Linked DNA regions of Homo sapiens. The protein of the gene in region 3 interacts with the protein of the main gene of each other region in a pairwise test. Each region holds a gene or a part of one and is shown on either strand. Other genes may lie near its edges.

Evidence for each region. The genes of interacting proteins can lie anywhere in the genome.
Region 1: the proteins of ABHD5 (region 3) and PLIN3 interact in binary tests that used the Homo sapiens proteins (3 or more experiments, as listed by UniProt).
Region 2: the proteins of ABHD5 (region 3) and GAD2 interact in binary tests that used the Homo sapiens proteins (3 or more experiments, as listed by UniProt).

The regions. Positions count from the first base shown.
Region 1 is NC_000019.10:4,850,641-4,857,667, reverse strand, and holds part of PLIN3 (perilipin-3), read left to right. Parts: intron 1-5,366; coding exon 5,367-5,652; intron 5,653-7,027. UniProt on the Homo sapiens protein: Structural component of lipid droplets, which is required for the formation and maintenance of lipid storage droplets. Required for the transport of mannose 6-phosphate receptors (MPR) from endosomes to the trans-Golgi network.
Region 2 is NC_000010.11:26,268,774-26,275,800, reverse strand, and holds part of GAD2 (glutamate decarboxylase 2), read right to left. Parts: intron 6,683-7,027; coding exon 6,628-6,682; intron 5,162-6,627; coding exon 5,045-5,161; intron 2,166-5,044; coding exon 2,101-2,165; intron 1-2,100. UniProt on the Homo sapiens protein: Catalyzes the production of GABA.
Region 3 is NC_000003.12:43,707,911-43,714,937, reverse strand, and holds part of ABHD5 (1-acylglycerol-3-phosphate O-acyltransferase ABHD5), read right to left. Parts: intron 3,230-7,027; coding exon 3,075-3,229; intron 1-3,074. UniProt on the Homo sapiens protein: Coenzyme A-dependent lysophosphatidic acid acyltransferase that catalyzes the transfer of an acyl group on a lysophosphatidic acid.

The DNA of each region.
Region 1 (7,027 bases), on a different chromosome or scaffold from region 3:
TGGCAATGCTGACCTGGGGTTAACACCTGAAGGCCCAGAACAGCACATGGCTTGTAGCAAATGTTGGCTCTTAACATTAAAAAAAAAAATTTTTTTTTTGAGACAGGTTCTCACTCTGTCACCCAGGGTGGGGTGCAGTAGTGTGATCATGGCTCAACTGCAGCCTTGAACTCCTGGGCTCAAGTGATCCTCCCATCTCAGCTTCCCAAGTAGCTGGGACCACAGGCATGCACCACCATGCCTGGCTATTTTTAATTTTTTGTAGAGACGAGTTTTCACCATGTTGCCCAGGCTGTTCTCAGACTCCTGGGCTCAACAGATCCTCCTGCCTCAGCCTCCTGAGTAGCTGGGACTAGGTGCATCCACCACGCCTGGCTAATTTTTGTACTTTTTGTCAAGACGGAGTCTCGCCATATTGCCCAGGCCGGTCTCCAACTCTTGGGCTCAAGCAATCCTCCTGCCTCAGCCCCACAAAGTGCTAGAATTATAGGAGTGTGCCACTGTGCCCTACCTCAGTTTCCCTTAATCACCGCTTTTTAAAGACCCTGTCTCTAAATACAGCCACATTCTTACCCCTGGGGATCAGGACTTCAACATAAGAATTTGGGGTTGAGGGGGCCATAATTCAACCTATAACAGCCTGGGATGAAAAAATGAGGCACAGACCAGGCGTGGTGGCTCACGCCTTACTCCCAGCACTTTGGGAGGCCGAAGCGTGCAGATCACTTGAGATCAGGAGTACGAGACCAGCCTGGCCAACATGGTGAAACCCTGTGTCTACTAAAAATTCAAAAATCAGCCAGGCGTGATGGTGAGTTCCTATAATCTCAGCTACTCGGGAGGCTGAGGCACGAGTATCACTTGAACCTGGGAGGCAAGAGGTTGCAGTGAGCCGAGATCGTGCCACCACGCTCCAGCCTGGGCAACAGAGCAAGGCTCTGTCTCAAAAAAAAAAAAAAAAACACCCTCCTTCAGATAAGTGTGAGGCTTAATCGGTTATTGTTTGTCTCCCCAGCTGGGACCAGGGCACAGGCTGCCTGCTTTGTGGCTGTGTCCAGTGCCCAGCAGGCAGCCTGGCACAGGGTAGATGCTTATTTTTTTAGTTTTTTGAGACAGAGTGTTGCTCTTGTTGCCCAGGCTGGAGTGCAATGGTGCGATCTCGGCTCACTGCAACCTCCGCCTCTCGGGCTCAAGCGATTCTCCTGCCTCAGCCTCCCGAGTAGCTGGGATTACAGGCATGCACCACCATGCCTGGGTAATTTTATCTTTTTAGTAGAGATGGGGTTTCTCCATGTTGGTCAGGCTGGTCTCGAACTCCCAACCTCAGGTGATCTGCCTGCCTCGGCCTCCCAAAGTGCTGGGATTACAGGTGTGAGCCACCGCGCCCTGCAGATAGATGCTTATTAAGTATTCAGGTGCTCCATGTCCGCTTCAGCCCAGTGGTTACAGAAGGGCCACCCTCGGGTACCACCTGCTTGTGTCTGGGTCTGTAGCATCAGAAATAGGTGATCCCTGGGTTGGAGGCAGGACAAGCCAGCCGCATCCCAGCATCCTTGGACTTTCCCTGAGACCACCTGCAGGGACAGGCAGCTTATTCATCCACTTGCTATTGAGTGCCTACTGTATGCCGGGGAGCTGTGCTGTCCCATCATGGTTAGACTTCCTCACCTCCCATTTATGCAGAAATGGCCTTAGCTGGGAAACAGCAGAGCGGTTGTCAACTTGCATTTTTTTTTTTTTTTTGAGACAAGGTCTTGCTCTGTAGCCCAAGCTAGAGTGCAGTGGCGTGATCTTGGCTCACTACAGCCTTGACCTCCTAGACTTAGGCAATCCTCCCAGCTCTCAGCCTCCTGAGAAGCTGGGACTACAGGTGTGCACCACCACACCTGACTAATTTTTTAATTTTTTGTAGGAATGGGGTCTTGCTATATTGCCCAGGCTGGTCTCAAACTCCCAGGCTAGCCAGGCACGGTGGCTCACGCCTGTAATCCCAGCACTTTGGGAGGCCGAGGCGGGCGGATCACGAGATCAGAACAACAGAGCGAGACTCCATCTCAGAAACAAAACAAAAAACAAACTCCTGGGCTCAAGCAATCCTCCTGCCTGCCTTGGCTTCCCAAAGTGCTGGGATTATAGTTGTGAGCCACTATGCCCAGCCATGCCTACACCTTATCAGCAAAGGCCAATAGTGGGCTTGGCTGAGGGGGGATGGAAACTGCTGAGCTTACAGGAAGATGGGAAACGTCAACCAGGAGCCCCCGTCTCAGGGCCAAGCCCTTGCTTCCCTTTCTCTCCCACTGATAGCGTAGGAGGCCAACAGTCTTTCTGTTTATAGAAGGGATAAGCTCAGGGTGAATTCTTCAAGGTCACTGAACAGAGCAGCAGCTGGGAGCTTTTTTTTTTTTTTTTTTTTTTTTTCAGATGGAGTCTCGTTCTGTTGCCCAGGCTGGAATGCAGTGGCGTGATCTCAGCCCACTGCAACCTCTGCCTCCTGGGTTCAAGTGATCCTCCTGCCTCAGCCTCCCAAGTAGCTGGGATTATAGGCGCCCATCACTACGCCCAGCAAATTTTTGTATTTTTAGTAGAGATGGGGTTTCACCATGTTGGCCAGGCTGGTCTCGAACTCCTGACCTCAGGTGATCCAGCTGCCTTGGCCTCCCAAAGTGCTGGGATTATAGGCGTGAGTCACCGTGCCCGGCCAATTTTTGTATTTTTTGTAGAGGTGAGGTCTTACTATGTTGCCCAGGCTGTTCTCACACTTCTGGGCCCAAGCGATCCTCCCACCTCAGCCTCCCAAAGTGCCGGGATGACAGGTGTGAGCCACCGTGCCTGGCCTGCTGTGAGCTCTTGACTTTTTGAGAGGTGCAATGCTCTCTCAATTCTGGGCCCTATGAGTTTTTTCCCCCTTTGTGAAGAGGTAACTTTCCCCAGGTTCTGGGGGACGGTGGTGTTGTCAGAGCTAGATTTTAATCCGGGCCAGTGTGAGAACGTGCGTGTTCACTGAGTAGTGGGGCTGTTAGAACCTGACTCTCATCGGGGGCGTTGGCTCATGCTGGCTCACACAGTGAAACCCCGTCTCTACTAAAAATACAAAAAATTAGCCGGCCGTGGCAGTGCACGCCTGTAGTCCCAGCTGCTGGGGAGGCTGAGGCAGGAGAACCGCTTGAACCTGGGAGGTGGAGGTTGCGGTGAGCCGAGATAGTGCCACTGCACTCCAGCCTGGGTGACAAGAGCAAAAACTCTGTAAAAAAAAACAAAAACAAAAACAAAAAACTTGACTCTCACACCCTCTTCCCCCACAAAAAGATGAACTCTCATGAGTACAAGAGGACTGAGTCTTCAGGGAAGCACCAACTTGGGTAGGAATGGGGCAGGTGTGGTTTTCAACTTTGCGGAGAGCCCTCTGCATAGAGATCTGTCTAAAGACTTAGCTTCAGCTGGACACAGTGGCTCATGTCGGTCATCCCAGCACTTTGGGAGGCCAAAGCAGGAGGACTGCTTGAGGCCAGGAGTTCGAAACCAGCCTGGGCAACATGGAGAGTCCTTGTCTCTACAAAAAATAAAAAAATAAGCCGGGTGTGGTGGTGCGTACCTGTAGTCTCAGCTACTTGGGAGGCTGAGGTGGGAGGATCGCTGGAGCCGAAGAGGTCAAGGCTTGAGTAAGCTATGATTGCACCACTGCACTCCAGCCTGAGTGACACAGTGAGACCCTGTCTCAAAAGAAAAAAAAAAAAAAGACTTAGATTCGAGAACAGCAGGTATTGACAGATGAGCGCTCACCATGTGCTGGGTGGGGCGTAGTCAAAGGATTCCATGCAAAGCTTTTTTTTGTTTGTTTGTTTTTGTTTTTTTTTGGAGACAGAGTCTCTCTCTGTCACCCAGGGTGGAGTGCAGTGGTGCAGTCTCGGCTCACTGCAAACTCCACCTCCCGGGTTCAAGGGATTCTCCCGCCTCAGCCTCTTGAGTAGTAAGGATTACAGACATGCACCACTGCACCCGGCTAATTTTTTGTATTTTTTGTCTCTACAAAAAATAAAAAATAAGGCTGGGCGCAGTGGCTCATGCTTGTAATCCCAGCACTTTGGGAGGCCCAGGCAAGTGGATCCCCTGATGTCAGGAGTTCAAGACCAGCCTGGCCAACATGGTGAAACCCGTCTCTACTAAAAATACAAAAATCGGCTCGGCATGGTGGCATGTGCTTGTAATCCCAGCTACTTGGGAGGCTGAGGCAGGAGAATCACCTGAACCCACGTGGCAGAGGTTGCAGTGAATCGAGATTGCACCATTGCACTCTAGCCTGGGCAACAAGAGTGAAACTCCGCCTCAAAAAAATTAATAAATAAATAAAAATAAAAGATAAAAAATAGCCACGAGTGGTGGTACGTGCCTGTGGTCACAGCTACTCGCTGGGGAAGCTGAGGTGGGAGGCTCACTTGAGCCCAGGAGGTGGAGTTTGTAGTGAGCCGAGATTGTGCCACCGCACTCCACCTGGGTGACAGAGGGAGACTCCATCTCAAAAGAAAAAAAATTAAATTGAAAAAAAAAAACAAAAAACAGGCAGAGTGCAGTGGCTCATGCCTGTAATCCTAGCACTTTGGGAGGCTGAGGTGGGCGGATCACTAGGTCAGGAGTTTGAGACCAGCCTGACCAACATGGTGAAACCCCATCTCTACTAAAAATACAAAATTAGCCTGGCGTGGTGGCGCATGCCTGTAATCCCAGCTACTCGGGAGGCTGAGGCAGGAGAATCGCTTGAACCCAGGAGGCGGAGGTTACAGTGAGCCGAGATCACACAATTGCACTCCAGCCTGGGCAACGAGAGTGAAACTCCATCTCAACAACAGCAACAACAAAAAACAATTAGCCAGGCATGGTGGCGGGCACCTGTAATCCCAGCTGCTTCGGAGGCTGAGGCAGGAGAACTGCTTGAACCCGGGAGACAGAGGTTGCAGTGATCTGAGATGGTGTCACTGCACTCCAGCCTGGGCAAGAGAGCAAGACCCTGTCTCCAAAAAAAAAAAAGAAAGAAAGAAATGAGGTACAGGGAGGTAGAGTGACTTTCCTGAAGCCACACAGCTGAGAAGTAGCTAGCTAGGAACGGAGCCTAGGTAGTCTGGCTGCAGAGTATGAGGTCATGCCCACAACTCCAGACTCAGGGTCACCTGGGGGATGGCGCTCCCTGCCTCAGTCTCCCTGGAAGTTGGGGTGCAGGGGAGGGGTGCCCACATACAGAGGGAAGACGGAGATGCTGGGGTCACCCGGGGGATGGCGCTCCCCGCCTCGGTCTCCCTGGAAGTTGGGGTGCAGGGGAGGGGTGCCCAGATATGGAGGGAAGGCAGAGATGCTGATGCTGTTGCATCTCCTAGGTCCTGGCGGACACCAAGGAGCTTGTGTCGTCTAAGGTGTCGGGGGCCCAAGAGATGGTGTCTAGCGCCAAGGACACGGTGGCCACCCAATTGTCGGAGGCGGTGGACGCGACCCGCGGTGCTGTGCAGAGCGGCGTGGACAAGACAAAGTCCGTAGTGACCGGCGGCGTCCAATCGGTCATGGGCTCCCGCTTGGGCCAGATGGTGTTGAGTGGGGTCGACACGGTGCTGGGGAAGTCGGAGGAGTGGGCGGACAACCACCTGCCCCTTACGGATGCCGAACTGGGTAAGTGTGGCCAGCGGGCTGCTCTGGGACCCCTCCCCAGGCCCCCTGACCGGAAGCCGCTGTCGGCCTCCTGGGGTCTGTGCCGACACTCACTGCCGCCTCGTCCCTGCCACTTCTCCCGGGCATCTTGGAATCTCATCACTAACGCAGTCCCCTCTGTCCTGCTCACCAGCTCCCGCCCTCATCCACCACAGTCTCCTCCCCACAGCAGCCACCAGAGGGCGCCTGTGACCACCTGAGTCAGAACCCGTCCCTCTGCCCACAGCCCTCCATGGACCCCACCTCCCCTGGGGTCAAAGCCCAAGTCCTCGTCACAGCCCACAAGGTCCTGCACAACCTCCCCTGTCCTCTCCCCGCCCTCCTCCTCTTCCCCCTTCGCCACTCCGCTCCTGCATAAATACGTGACTAAACTTGAGATCTCACTGAACTGTGACAACAATGCTGGTGTTCCCGCCAGGCCAGACATCCCACTCCAGTCATCTCGGTCACATATTCGCACTCCCTGCACTGTTTATTTGATATTCTTCTTTAATTAATTTATTTATTTATTTAGAGACAGAGTCTCGCCCTGTCACCTAGGCTGGAGTGCAATGGCGTGATCTCAGCTCACTGCAACCTCTGCCTCCTGGGTTCAAGCGAGTCTCCTGCCTCATCCTCCTGAGTAGCTGGGATTACAGGCACCTGCCACCACACAGCTAATTTTTTGTATTTTTAGTAGAAACGGGGTTTCACTATGTTGGCCAGGCTGGTCTCGAACTCCTGACCTTGTGATCTGCCCACCTCGGCCTCCCCAAGTACTGGGATTACAGGTGTGAGCCACCATGCCCGGCCCTTTTTTATTTATTTGTTTTAGAGATAGAGTCTCACTCTCTTGCCCAGGCTGAAGTGCAGTGGTGCGATCATAGCTCAATGCAGCCTCCAACTCCTGGGTTGAGGCGAGCCTCCCATCTCAGCCTCCGAGTAGCTGGGACTACAAGCACACACCATCACGCCCAACTAATTTTTCTTTATTTAATTTTTGGTAAAGACGGGGTCTCCCTCTGTCATCCCAGCTGATCCAGAACTCCTTGGCTGGAGTGATCCTACTGCTTTAGCCCCCCAAAGTGCGGGGATTGGGATTTTTGCAAATAAGTAGCTTAGGATATAGGCAGGGCGCGGTGGCTCAGCCTGTAATCCCAGCACTTTGGTGGGCCGAGGTGGGCAGATCACCTGAAGTCAAGAGTTTGAGACAAGCCTGGCCAACATGGTGAAACCCGGTCTCTACTAAAAATACAAAAATTAGGCCGGGCACGGTGGGTCACGCCTGTAATCCCAGCACTTTGGGAGGCCAAGGCCGGGCGGATCACAGGTTCAGGAGATCGAGACCATCCTGGCT
Region 2 (7,027 bases), on a different chromosome or scaffold from region 3:
TTGACTACGGATTTCTTCTACTTTTAGGGTGAGTTCTAAACTTTGGTTTGCGGAGCTTGGAAAAATGTCATTCCCTAAGTGAGACACATTTCTTTCCTAAACTTGTGGCCATACACATTATGTGGTTTCCACTGGTCTTCCAACTGTATTCACTTAGAAAGTATGCCTTTTGCTAATAAGTCAGTGAGAGAGGGGTATCCTCAGTTAAATGGGTGGCTAAAGGGGATTCTGCTCAGAGTGGAACACCAGCAGCCCCCTCATTTTTAGGACTTCATATATGGTTATTCCATTTGAAAAGTTTAGTTACAGTACAGTTTCAAGAATTGCGGCAATAAGAGGAAACTCTGTGTTCCCTGATGAACGTTCTAAGCTTTGCTCTCAAATAATAGTCTTTGGTACAGAATCGTGTGGGTGTTTATTTTTCTAAGGCTCAGGGTAGGTAATTTAGTGAGTTTTTAAGTGGAGGATGTGCCAGGACTTTCAGCACTTACAGTTGCAAGTGGCATCAAAGGTAAAGTAACAGACTTTTTGTGCCAGTCAGAAACTCACAGAAGAGAAAGTACTGTACATAGGCCACCTCTCTTGAAAGCACATGAATTTAATTATTGTTCTGATCATGTGAGCAGGCACCTTCCAAGTTGTTCTCTCTCTCTCTTTTATTGTCTCTCCCTGTTTACTTCATTGCCTCTTCCTTAAGCTTCTGCTTTCTTGCAGATCTTCAAGATGGAAAGGGATTAGGCCTGAGAGAAGCCCCAAGGGTCCAAGAGCAGAGGCCTGGCACTGGCTGACCCTGGGAGGGAGACACACCTGCCCTCATCCACTGGCATCTAAATGGGGCCCTGCAATCAGAGCTTGGGTGGCTCCAGGTGCCTTAACACCGCTGTGCTCAGGCCAGGCTCTGACCCCAGCCATCAGACTCAGGGACAGTGACCCTTCTGACATGGGCCTTAGCTGGTGTATCCCAACTCTTTTTTGCCTTCTTTCCATTAATTTGGTGGGATGCTCTTGACTCCAGCCCAGTAACCATACCCCTCTCTTTCCACACTCACGGGTTCTCTGTGTATTTTGGGCCTGGGTGTCAGATCGCACCCTCTGCACAGCCACTCTGGCCTGGGCCTCCCACATGCCCAGGGCTCACAAGTGCCTCTGTGCTCCATCAGCGTCTCTCCTTGTCCTGGAACAGAAACTGTGCCAAGATATCTAGTGGCAGAGCCAGTGTGACGCTTTTGCTGGGCAGCATCTGGCGACTTGGCAGGGGATGGTGGGCATTTGGCAGCCTCTGATGAATTCAGGCTTTCTTGGTCACTTGGAGTGCCAGAGCTCACCACTGTGTCTGACCTGCCATGTTGTGATGAGAGAACTGGGCTCCCCTTGCATGTGGTTCAGAACCAGAGCCTGTATTTTGCATTCTGTTGTTCTCTTTTCTTTGGACCTGAATGTGCTTTATGCCAATCAGATATCACTGCCTTTGTGTTTTTCAGCTTTTCTCAACAGTCTTCTGCGTAGGCTCTAAATAAAAGGTGCTTTGCAGCATCAGTCGGAGCTGTGTCAGAGAAAGGTTATTACGGGAATGAAACATGAGATGAGGCTATTGCTAGTATGTTTCACTTTAAGTGAACTGGCCATCTTAGACCCCAAACCCAAACTTTCAACATTGATAAGTTACAAGGTGCTTATTTGCTTTGAAAAATTATTATTTTTTTTAAGCAGTGGATATTATCCTTTTATGAAACATGAAAGCTATAAATCTTCTCCCTAGTAAAACGTGGGCTGCCTGTAGGTTTTAAACAATTTTTGTGGTTGGTTCAGAGATCCCAGGAATAGACCCTAGACAGGAATCTCTATGTCTGAAAGAGATTCTACCTGGGTCGCTTGATGTGTATTCTGATTTTTCTGTTGTTTACACATAATATTTACATATTTGATTTTTCTGTTGTTTACCCACATTCATGAGTGTAATACCACATAAGGCAAGGAACACAAGCACTGAATAGAGTGAGTTCACTCAGTATTCCAAAAGTTCCTGGAAATTGACTGTAATTTGTGTTTCACAGTTAGCTTTTAACACTTTATGTTGTTAATAAGAAAAATGCAACATACCTCTCCACGCCACTCAGTTTCCACTTGTGTTTTCGGGACATCAGTAATCCCCCACCCCAAGCTGCCTGAAAAAAAATCATATGAGGAAAATGGTAGCAGTTTGTCATTGCCTAGATTTCTATAGTCTGGTGTCTTTCTAGGTGAAAATGATCTTGACCCCAGGCCACTTAGGAAGTTGACCACCTCCTTCTGGCACTAACCTTCAGAGTTTACACCGAAGGGCCCTTCTAAGGTCTCAGATTCCATCCCACATTTATATGGGTGTAAGGAGCCACCTTGGAGGCATAGCTCCTGGTCCGTAGAAGAGAGAGAAAGACCCTCTCCCAAACCTATCACCAGCACCATTAGTCCTCATGAAGTCATGTTCTCAGAATACGAAACCCTGTGGTCCCCACAGTGTAAGGCAGAGAAGATGGGCAGGAGGGCCATTAAACAGCTTCCAAGTTGCAGGGAAAACTCTTTTGACAAGTCTAAATGATTCCAGAAATAAGAAGTGGCTTCATAACTCTATTTCACTGATGTGTGATTTTGGATAATTTCTGTGTCCAAAATTCACAAGCAGGGAAGATTCATACCAGTTAATTAGCTGAGCAGTTAGAACACGTCTTAACAATTTGTACTTGATCAAGGTTGAAGATTTGAATTGGTGTAGTAATCTCCTTTAAAAATAGAATGCCAAGATGGAGATTCATTTGGAAATATTAACTTTCTTTCCTCTGTGTGTACAAATAATTCTAGGATAATTTTAAATGGATTATAAAATTCTTTTATGATATAATCACTTCCCCCCACCTTTTGTTGTAAGTTCAGCCCTCTTTTTGTTTTGTTTTGTTTCTGAGACAGAGTTTTGCTCTTGTTGCCCAGGCTGGAGTGCAATGGTGAGATCTTGGCTCACTGCAACCTCTGCCTCCTGGGTTCAAGCAATTCTCCTGCCTCAGCCTCCCAAGTAGCTGGGATTACAGGCACCCACCACCATGCCTGGCTAATTTTTGTATTTTTAGTAGAGACGAGGTTTCACCATGCTGGCCAGGCTGGTCTCGAACTTCTGACTTCAGGTAATCCACCTGCCTCAGCCTCCCAAAGTGCTGGGATTACAGGCGTGAGACACTGCACCTGGCCCAGTTCTTTTGCACTTTGAAAAATTATGATTTTCCAAACGTGTACTATTTTAAGATTCTTTCTACTTTATAGAATGTATGAATGTTAAAGCTAATAAGAGTAAGTGGTAAACTTGGTATGTTTCAAAGAAAAGCTAATAAAACTGGTTAAAAGATTCCCTAGTTCTAATTTAAGTAGGAGGCCCAGAGGAACAACCCATAGCTTCTGCTGGCTCAGGACACACAGACATTCTCATTTTTGAAGTTGCCGGGTAATCCTCTTCCTGAATCAGCCAGCAAGGTCTACCAGGATTTCCAGTCCTGAGGCCCAGGTCACTAATGATATCGGATAGTTCAGTCTTTTCTCAGTGTCTTCATGTGTAAAATGAAAGGGGCTCTGGTAGCCTAATGAACGACTCACACTGTGAATCAGGGAGGATAAAGAACATTGGTGATTGCTCTGCAGGAATACTCTGGAATAATGGAAATGCACCCAGCTAAGCCTGTGGAAATTTTCTGCCCCTAAAGAAAAGAACATTAATGAGGCCAGGTGTGGTGGCTCCTGCCTGTAATCCCAGCATTTTGGGAGGCCAAGGCAGGTGGATCACCTGAGGTCAGGAGTTCGAGAGCAGCCTGGCCAATATGGAGAAATCCCATCTCTACTAAAATTGCAAAAATTAGCTGGGCATGGGTGCGCACGTCTGTAATCCCAGCTACTCAGGAAGCTGAGGCAGGAGAATTGCTTGAACCCTGGAGGCGGAGGTTGCGGTGAGCTAAGATCACGCCACTGCACTCCTGCCTGGGCGACAGAGCAAGACTCTGTCTCAAAAAGAAAAAAAAAAGAGCATTAATTTGGTCTGAATAATTATTATAAAGCCAAAATGATCTAAGCCAGGGCTAGATCATTGTTATAGCCCTGGCTTAGACCCAGTGCTGGCCCATGACAACATAAGGATCTTGCACTCGAATGAACATCAACTTATGCGTTCCTTCACTGAGAAAGTCTTGCAATGAAAAAATTATCAGCTGAGCCAAGCATTGCGCTTAGTTTGTGATGGTTTGTGATTAGCGATGGTTTGTGACTGATGATGGTTTGGCACAAACTCTTTATCTCATATGGATCATTAACAGTTTGCAGGTGGTAGCTAATCGTCAAACCACACTTTGAGTAATACTAATCTAAACTTAAATCCCTTCGGTCCTTCTAAAACTTAACACATTTTTTTTCATTGGAAAATGTTCTGGAGGGAACACCTTCATTATTTTTTAGTGTGACAAGGCCTGAAGTCAAAACGTTTCAAATATAATCTATCTTCTTAGCTGACCAAGCTACGAAATTGGAACTTTGGTGGTCCTTATTTCCCAGGAAGTTGTCAAGCCTATTTTCCTCTCTAAATACAGGAATATCTAACTTGAGCTTCAGTTTTTTGCTTTTGTTTGTTTTTAATTCTCTGGGTTTCCTACATAAATGCAACTCCTCTTTACTCTTCTGACCATTCTGGTAAGTGAGGAACAGCAGGACTGTGTGCGTAGGTTGTATTCCTCCATGGATGCAATGGCTCGATGAATTGAGAACAAAGTGGTCAGCTTGGGTACTGATCATAGAAATACAAATATTACCATGTTGGGGACATTAAGGTATAATCAGCCTTGGGATGCTTCTGGTGCACGGTGTGTACTGTGTGAGTTGTGTGCTAATTTGCTTCATCCAGCTTTAAAAGCTTTAATATCACCACTCTGAAAATAAGCTGACCAAGTTAAAAAAAGAGAAAACAAATTTCCTTTGTGTGTCCCACATGAAAAACGTGCAAGGACGTTTTAGTGGCCAGTCCCTAAGGGATACTTACATCCACATGCATCCAGATCTTATACTTTTTGCAAATGTCAGCGACAGCTAAGAGGGGGTCAAATGCTCCGTACACGGTGGTTCCAGCTGTGGCACTCACGAGGAAAGGAACAAACCCCTGTGCGAACGAGAAAGCCCCAAATCATGGAAAACAGAGTCAAGGGTTCTTTTAAAAAGCTGATTCAAAGCAATGGAAATTCTCTCCCTAACAGACACGTCTGAATTTGAGGAAGCAGCAGCAGAGTTACTGACACCCCGGGGTCTGGGACAAATTGATGTTCACTCTCTGGAATCTGAGTTCTCTAGGCTATGCTGTTGGACCTGACTGTGTCTTAAAAGAACAGACATTCTGATTCTCAGAAGAGGCTGTAGTGAACCCAGAGGCTGTCAGGGACGTCCCCGAGACATGTATATATTCCCGGTAGACTTTCTGGCCCTTTTAACCCCCTTTGCTCACTTTCAAGTGTTCCTTATTCACAACGAGGCCTCTGAACTTCATAAATCCCCTAGAGTGAGTAGGCAGGAGAATGAAGAGAAGTAGCTCTGACCAGCCCATTATTCCTATTTGGAAAATGCCCAGATAATTTATTTCACGTTTCAGCACGGAGCGGCTAAAATAATACGCCATGACTTTTATCCGTCTAACTAGTCCTCAGTCTCTCTGGCCATGGCTAAATGAAAACTGATTGAAGTAACGGGCTGGAAGAAGGCAGGAGAATGCCACAAACAGGATCGCCATAGTCCCTCATTCCATAAGGACTCTGTCCTGTCTATAGAACGTGATGTTATGGTGTCAGTCTTTAGGTGGCAGCAAAGGTTTAATCTTCTAGTTGATGTTACTAGAAGTAGTTCTAGTACTTGCACAAGGAGGGAAACCTTCTCCTGCTGCCTGCCACTTAGTAAAACAAAACCAAACGAAAAAGGGCATATGAACGTAAATCATTATTTCTGAGTTCCTAATGATAAAATGCATGTGTATGTTATTAAATCAGAAACTGTAGGTTATATCTACCAAATGGTAAACAAAGAATTCTAGAAACAAATTCTCTGATTTGTGAGCCATCCCAGGTTGTAAATGACTTTCTAGAGCTTTGGGAATCTTGGGCAGGCATTCAGAACTTGTTACTTCTGAAAAGAGTTCTAAATTGCTTCCTGCAAAATAAGACGTCTGGAGAGCCAATGCTAACAGCATGCACCTACACGGGAAAAACTGGCCCCTTTTGAAGAACTGCACCAGGGTCTCTCACATACTGCATTAGCATTCTGCTATTTCCCCGCCTCTGAAAATATTCTTTCAAATGTGTGGGTGTTTCATGCCAACCCTCAGTACCTAGGAAGACAAATGCTTTGGAAACGCTCACTGTATCTCTGTATATAATATTTATTCAGCAATTTAAACTTTTCTAAAGCAGAGCCTATAACCCAGAGAAATAAATAGTGACTGGATGCAGAATTCTATGTTCTCATTAAACCTGGGAGATTGAGGCTTGGATCCTCTTTTTAAAATAAAACCAAAACACATTTTGTTCTCCGGTGGATGGAAATAGAAATATGGGCTGGATAAAGCTCCCGGCAGAAACTTACTTTCTGTTTGGCTTCAAGAATCCTTCTTTCAAGATCAGATGGAATCATTTTCCCTCTGGAAGGAAAAAGAAATATAGATTTGCTTTGAATAATTTGCTTCATCGTCTTTACAACGTAAGTGGCCGCAGGAGGGTAAAGTCCAACCCCAAACTGTTGATAACAATACTCGGAGAAAACAACTCCTTGACTGCTTCCAGGAAGGATGCATTTACTTGCCTGGATGAGGCATGACTATCATTTCTGGCACGTTTTGCAGACTTGTGACCGTATTGTGTTGTTCCCTATAGAACGATTACCATGACCCTCTGCTGTGCACAGAAGCTTCTTATTAAGTCATCCTCTTAATTCAGTTAAAACAAGCCTGATTTGGAGCAAAATGTTTGGCAATGAAAGGAGAGTT
Region 3 (7,027 bases):
AGGAAATTTAAAAAATGCATGTTTTAAATTATAGTTAACTTATCAACTAAATAATATAGAAAGTTTTAGTGCTTGTCTGTGTAATGAGTGTTATATGCACACATATATATATGTATTCAAATATATATTGTAGGTGGGAAAAAGCACACATTCTGATAGCTGTCCTCCTAAAGTTCCCCAAGGAAATATTAATATAAGAAGTAAAGAGTATTGTATTTTGACTTGCAGATGTACTTTAGGGCCTCAAAAACATGTAAGTTAGAAGGCACTTTTGTAGGTAAATAAATTCTTTAAACGTGGCGAGTAGCTCGTACGTAAAAATTAATGTAATAACTTGTATTTCTTCCATAATTATAACACATTAACTTCTAAATGAAGTAAACTGGTATACATAATTATTTCTGTGTGAAAATAAATTCAGCTTCTTCTTGGGACACTAGCGAGACTCCCTGCTAAGGTTATCCCTGGTGGCGCCCACAGCCCCACTCTAGAAAAAGCCGAGGACACCCAGGCGTGATGGCTCAAGCCTGTAATCCCAGCACTTTGGGAGACCGAGGTGGGCGGATCACAAGGTCAGGAGTTCGAGACCAGCCTGACCAACACGGTGAAACCCTGTCTCTACTAAAAATACAAAAATTAGCCGGGCGTGGTGGCGTGCACCTGTAATCCCAGCAACTCAGGAGGCTGAGGCAGGAGAATCACTTGAACCTGGGAGGTGGAGGTTGTAGTGAGCCAAGATCGCGCCACTGCACTCTAACCTGGGCGACAGAGCGAGACTCCGTCTCAAAAAAAAAAAAAAAGAAAAAAAGAAAGAAAGAAAGAAAAGAAAAGAAAAAGCCCAGGGCAAGGCCCACAAGGGAAAGAGGATGAAGAGCAGAAGCTTTCTTCTAGTCACACTTTTCTATTCTGAGGCCCCAGAGACTGACTGGTCTCCCTTTCTGCTACCACTACCCCATGACTCCAGCAAGGCTTTACTTCTCTACTGGCCCTCTCTTCCCATCTCTGATGAATTATACAGCTCCACCAAGAAATTCTGTCATGCAATTGATTCTACATCACCTCCCCACCCCCAAGTGCAAGCAATAATGGCAGGCTGAGGGCATGGCATTAAAGAGCCTCTCCTAGGTGTCCTCCCTTGCCCATCACTGTCTCCTAATTTCTCTTCATACTTTACTTTTCCCATAATTGTTATTTTTGTACCTGTGTTCTAGTAAAATCTATTTATATTTCAGGACTATAAAGACTAAATGAAGCTCTTAAGTAGTTTACCAGAGAAGGACCAGGCATAGTAAGGAGTGGCTCTACTGGGGAGGGCTGAAAGACTGCAGGTGGGCAAAATGTGCCATCTGTGAGCACTGAAGCAATAAAGTGTGGTCACCAATTCAACCCCCATATCCTCCTCTAAGTCCTGCAGTCCCACTGCTCTCCCAATCCAAACAGAAGGCACTAGGGCAGGAGGGGTCAGGGTTGGGCAGAAGGGAACAGCATTTACAGTCACCTGCATGACAGTTAATCCCACAACCTCCTCCACACCCCCATGCCTCTTCTCTTTTCTCACTAACAGAACCCATCTTTTCTTTTTTCTTTTCTTTTCCTTTTTTTTTTTTTTTTTTTTGAGACAGGGTCTTGCACTGTTGCCCAGGCTGGAGAATAGTGGTGCGATCTTGGCTCGCCACAACCTCCACCTCCCAGGTTTGAGTAATTCTCATGTCTCAGCCTCCTCTCCTGAGTAGCTGGGATTACAGGTGTGTGCCACTATGCCTGGCTAATTTTTTTGTATTTTTAGTAGAGATGGGGTTTTGTCATGTTGGCCGGGCTTGTCTCAAAGCCTGGCCTCAAGTGATCTGCCTACCTCAGCCTCCCAAAGTGCTGGTATTACAGGTGTGAGCCACAGCACCTGGTTAGAACGCATCTTTTCTATAGTATCAATTAGGCAGCAACATGCCCAGGAAAGCAGGCCCTGGAAACAAATCATGATTGGTGCATCACAGAAATTTCTTCTTTGCTGGTGGAAGGACTAGGAGTGGGCCGAGTCATAAGCAGAGGTCAGGTGGAGCCTTCCAGAGAGGACTTTCTTCCCTGACAAAGCATTATGGAGAGAAGGACCATTTTTCGTGCTTTTATTTCTTTTTGCTCAGGGCGCTGATTTGTGAGATGATGCTTAATGCTATGGCAGGCATCAAACCACCGTGAGGAAAAAAGTCAAGAAAATCACAGACACAGACCCAAACCCTAACATCAATGAGCAAGCAACCAGAACAAGTGCTAAAACCTATCTCCAGATTGCTTATTAAGGAAATAATAAAAGTCCTTCTAGTTTAAGCCTCTTGGGTATTCAGTTACTTACAACTAAAAGTACTCCAAATTCATACAAGTTGTACGGGGGAAAGGCAGAAGTTCAGAACATCATTATCTGTGACAATGAGGGAAGGAAATTCCCATGGCTATGGGGCTGAGACAGAACTGCTGAGAGTCAAATAAAAGTCAATCAGGGACTAAACACTGGTGCCTCAAAATATGACCAGAAATATATATCAGGAGTCCCCAAAATGTTGTGGAAAAAATAACTTTATCTTTCCAACACTCTGACATGGATAAGGGAAGAATCTGTGAGTGTGGTGGTACCTGTTATCCCCAGGGTCAATCAAATCAGGTTTTATGGTACCAAATGGTATCATCAATTGGCCAAACGCTCTCCAGTGCTCACCAGCAGGGCAACATGCTACACTTCTCCCAGGCCCTGGACTAGCAGAGGTCCTTATATACTCCCCAAAACACTCTGCTTGCCTGGCTTTTTTTAGAGTGTTGAGGACTGACTAACCTTATCCTCAGCATTCCCTCCTTTTCTGCTTTGCTAATTATTCACAATGTTTACAATATAAAGACTCTCCTTTGAGGAGAAGAACCTAGTTGCATTCGTCTTTGTGCAAGACATGGTACTTATTAGAGGAAGAGGAGAAAAAGTAAGGGTTCAGGGTTTTCTTGTTTGTTTTTAAGATTTTGACTAACAATAGTGAATTCTGCTCTTCTCATAACTTACAAACATTTTGCTTTCCTAGAACATAAGCACTCACCAAAGGGTCCTGCAATCCTTAGGCCAGCTAAAGGGTTAAAGGGAGTCAATGCTGCTCCCAAGGCTCTGATCCAAACTGGAATTGGTCTGTCTTGATCAGCAAGGTCTGGTCGTTCAGGGAAACCCCAAGGCTCCACTAAAATGAGATGATTAACCCTGTTGGGGGAAAGAATATATTTAAGTTCATTTGGTAAAATCACCCTAAGACTATAAAGAGCTAACATGATTTATAAAATAAAGGTAGAATGAACCACCTTCAAAAACCTTCACGTTAAAGATTAGTGCTAAATAGATCGTATCATGCTCTTATTCTGTGTAAACTTTTGAGATTCAGTAGGATCTAAGAGGTGTATGGTAGAAAGAGGGCTTTATTTTTAATATATCTAAATGTGAATAATAAAAGATATATAGAGTACAGAACTGTGTGTTTCTTGAGAAAAAGAAAAAAGGGCATTTGTTATTTAAGTTACACTCTGGCAGATGATGTAGATCACTGGCCACTCAGAAAAATCCAATGGTTCCATGTATGTCTAGGTTGACACTGCAAAAATGGCTAAAGATCAATATCACATTCTTATAAAATAGCCTCAGATACCAACAACAGTTATCTCCTATGAATCAACCATCCTAAAAATGTAAGTGAAGTTAAGGACTTAAAGCGGGTTCAAAAGTACTTTAAATTAACTTTTCATAAACATGAGGATAACGTAACGTGGACTGAAAACACTCCCTAGTTCAGGATTCTAGAATTGTTGAAAAGGAACAAGTCTATCTACCTTATCCATGATATCACGCTATACTGACATTAGATTCTGTTTTCAATTCTTTCCCAATTTTCTTTTTCATTGACCAAGAGATAGAAAATATTCAGTAGAACTTCATATACAATTATTTCATATTGTTAATCATTTTAATTTTTCCATCTTATGAAACTTCTTCCCAATGAAGGAAAACCAGAACTATCAGCAGTACTTCCACATAGCTGCATCATGCTTTAAACATCATAAAGATTCCAAACAAAGTACAAAGATCCTTCTGATACAATACAATGTTCAACTGTAACCAAGCCAGCCAAGAAATGCCAGCCAAAAATCTCCCAAGGATAACTGACAATGACTCTAAAGTCCCTTTCCTAAGTTATAACTGAAACAGAAAGGTAAAGAATCTAAAACATGGGCACAGATGGTATTATTCTTCATATAAAATCTATTCTATTATTGTTGTCAGCATGCATAAGAATAAGTTAGTAACAGGTCCATACTGTGACTGTTTTCTTTCCAGACAGAAAGCTTTGGTGCACAGAGCTCTATGGTACCTTGGAGAATATTGGGTGCAATCATCTTAGATAAGAAGGAAGCTGAGATGTACTACATGACCTGCTCCGGTACATAACATTAGTTAACACAGAACTAGGGCTGAAACCCACATTTCTCTACCCCAGCATACCAGCAGATGCCGACAAGGAATTGGGCAGAAGGCTTTATTTTCTAAAAATAGGCTAATCAACATAAGAGAGACATATTAGTAAAGGTAAAACTTAACCTTTATCAACTCTCAAGGCCAGTCCTAATATTATACTCCAAACTTCATAGCATTAACATATGTAGAATATAACCATAGAGATGTATGAAGATATGTGATAAATGAGTTTCATTTAATTATGAAGTATGCCTTCACAGCCTAAAAATTTCATATGAGAACATTTTCTAATAGTGTATCAGAAAGAGGTTAGAAATGAGTGTTTTGCTTTGTTTTTTAATGGCAAAGACTAACTCTTATATTTTGACCACCTCCTAAATTCCTTTTTATTTTTATTTGTTTTGAGATGGAGTCTCACTCTGTCGCCCAGGCTGGAGTGCAGTGACACAATCTCAGTTCACTTCAACCTCCGCCTCCCAGGTTCAAGTGATTCTCCTGCCTCAGTCTCCTGAGTAGCTGGGATTACAGGCACACACTACCACGCCTGGCTAATTTTTGTATTTTTAGTAGAGATGGGGTTTTACCATGTTGCTCAGGCTGGTCTCGAACTCCTGACCTCGTGATCTGCCCACCTTGGCCTCCCACAGTGCTGGGATTATGGGCCTGAGCCACTGTGCCCGGCCCTAAATTCCTTTAATTATAGCCCACAATAAGATCTGGGGTAGGGGAAGGAAGAGGCCTAACAGGGGTATGAGTAGAACTAATGAGACAGCCACCTAGTTGAAAGCAGCAAAGATTCATGTTAAGAAACAGCCACTATTATTCACTACTGACTTATCTCCCAAAGAGAAAAATGAACTCTTTATTAAAACATACCCTACCCTAAACAATTTAGTTAAATTTTTGTCACAAATTTGTTAATGGATCTTGCTCTAAGCTCTTTCTGACCTGCTAACCCAAAAACAGGTAGGACAAAGGAAAACTTGACAGAAGTCTCATCTGTCTGTAGGTAAGTGACTGTTTTTGCCTTAGTTCTGGCTTGCCTTTTAAATATGATCTTCAAAATTTCATCCCTAGGTGAAAATGCCAGTTTAACAAATTATGCAAAGTATATATACTAAGGCAGATGATCTTTTTGTTTCTTTTTGAAAAGGAGTGAACCGTGCCTACAATTGCTCAATTCTACTGTCCCTACAATTGCTCAATTCTACTGTCCCTACAATTGCTCAATTCTATGTCTTCATAACCTAGCATGAGGCTTAGCACATGGCAGATGCTTGGTAAACATTTGGATTAATATGCTTTTCCACATTTTCTTTTAGTCCTAGTCTATTAAGGATATACAAATTTTATAAAGTATAATCATAGCATAAGCATATCCAGCTGGATTTTTCTGGTCCCCCAGATGACATCAGAACATCACTGCTATTTATTAATCTTATTATTCGGTAACAAAATCCATTTAGATGGTCAAGAACCAGTCTAGTCTTTTTTAAAATAAAATTATACTGTTTGGAACAGAAAAATAAATCATAAGCATTGAATACCGGCCACAAAATTGTATTAATGTATATGTGCATGGGTGTCTGAAACAAGTTTTGTGGGGTGATACAATTGTATTTTTCTATTCCAAACAATATAGAAGGGCTATAGTAAAAAAAGTTTGAACATAATTTTTTAAAACTCTACAACATCTAAACTATAGTTAACTGTAGTTATATATCATCTGCTTCTACTACATGTAAAGACCCCAGAAAATAATTGTTCCTTATTTTTGGTTTTAAGAATTTTAAATAAGATAGACCATGCAAAGCACTCAGGTTGGTGGCCATCGAATAGTAAGTATTCAGTAAATGTAAGCTAGTTACAGTAGCAAGAATAGGAAGACTACAAGAGTAGAATTTATTCCCGGGAACATGGAAAGACAGGTATTTATTCTTCAGAAGAGCTTGATCACAGGTGACTGCAATGTTGCACCAGACCAAGGTCCCAGGCTATCTTCTAACCTCCGCTTTTAGTAAAAATATTATCTCCTCACTTGATAGGAGTTACTGGGTTTTAATGTACATCTAAATTATTATAATTAGCTAAACCCTACTCTTTAATATTCCAGAGAGGGTTCCCTGCTGGGATTGTTAGTTCACATCTAGGGTAAAGAATGGGTCCAACCAGATAGCACATGTGAGTCATCCTATTAGACATCCTTGTCAAGAACCAGAGACTGGTTTAAACCACAAGAAAAACAAAGAACCAGCAGAGCAGGAACAACAGAACAGCTCATCAGTTTTGAAATATACAAAGGCATTCTTCTTAATGTTAGTCATTAGAATTGGCCTTGAGTTTGAAGATGGTGAGCAGAGTACATCCTTAAGGGCAAAGCAGTGGACAACACCTGTACCAACACACTAGGACCTGATTTCACTTGCTCTAAATGCTAACAAGGGTAGATAAGCCTGACCTTCATGAGATTTAAAGACAGCCACCAGTCAGAAATAATGCAACAAGAACAATAATCAGGTCAGGCGTGGTAGCTCA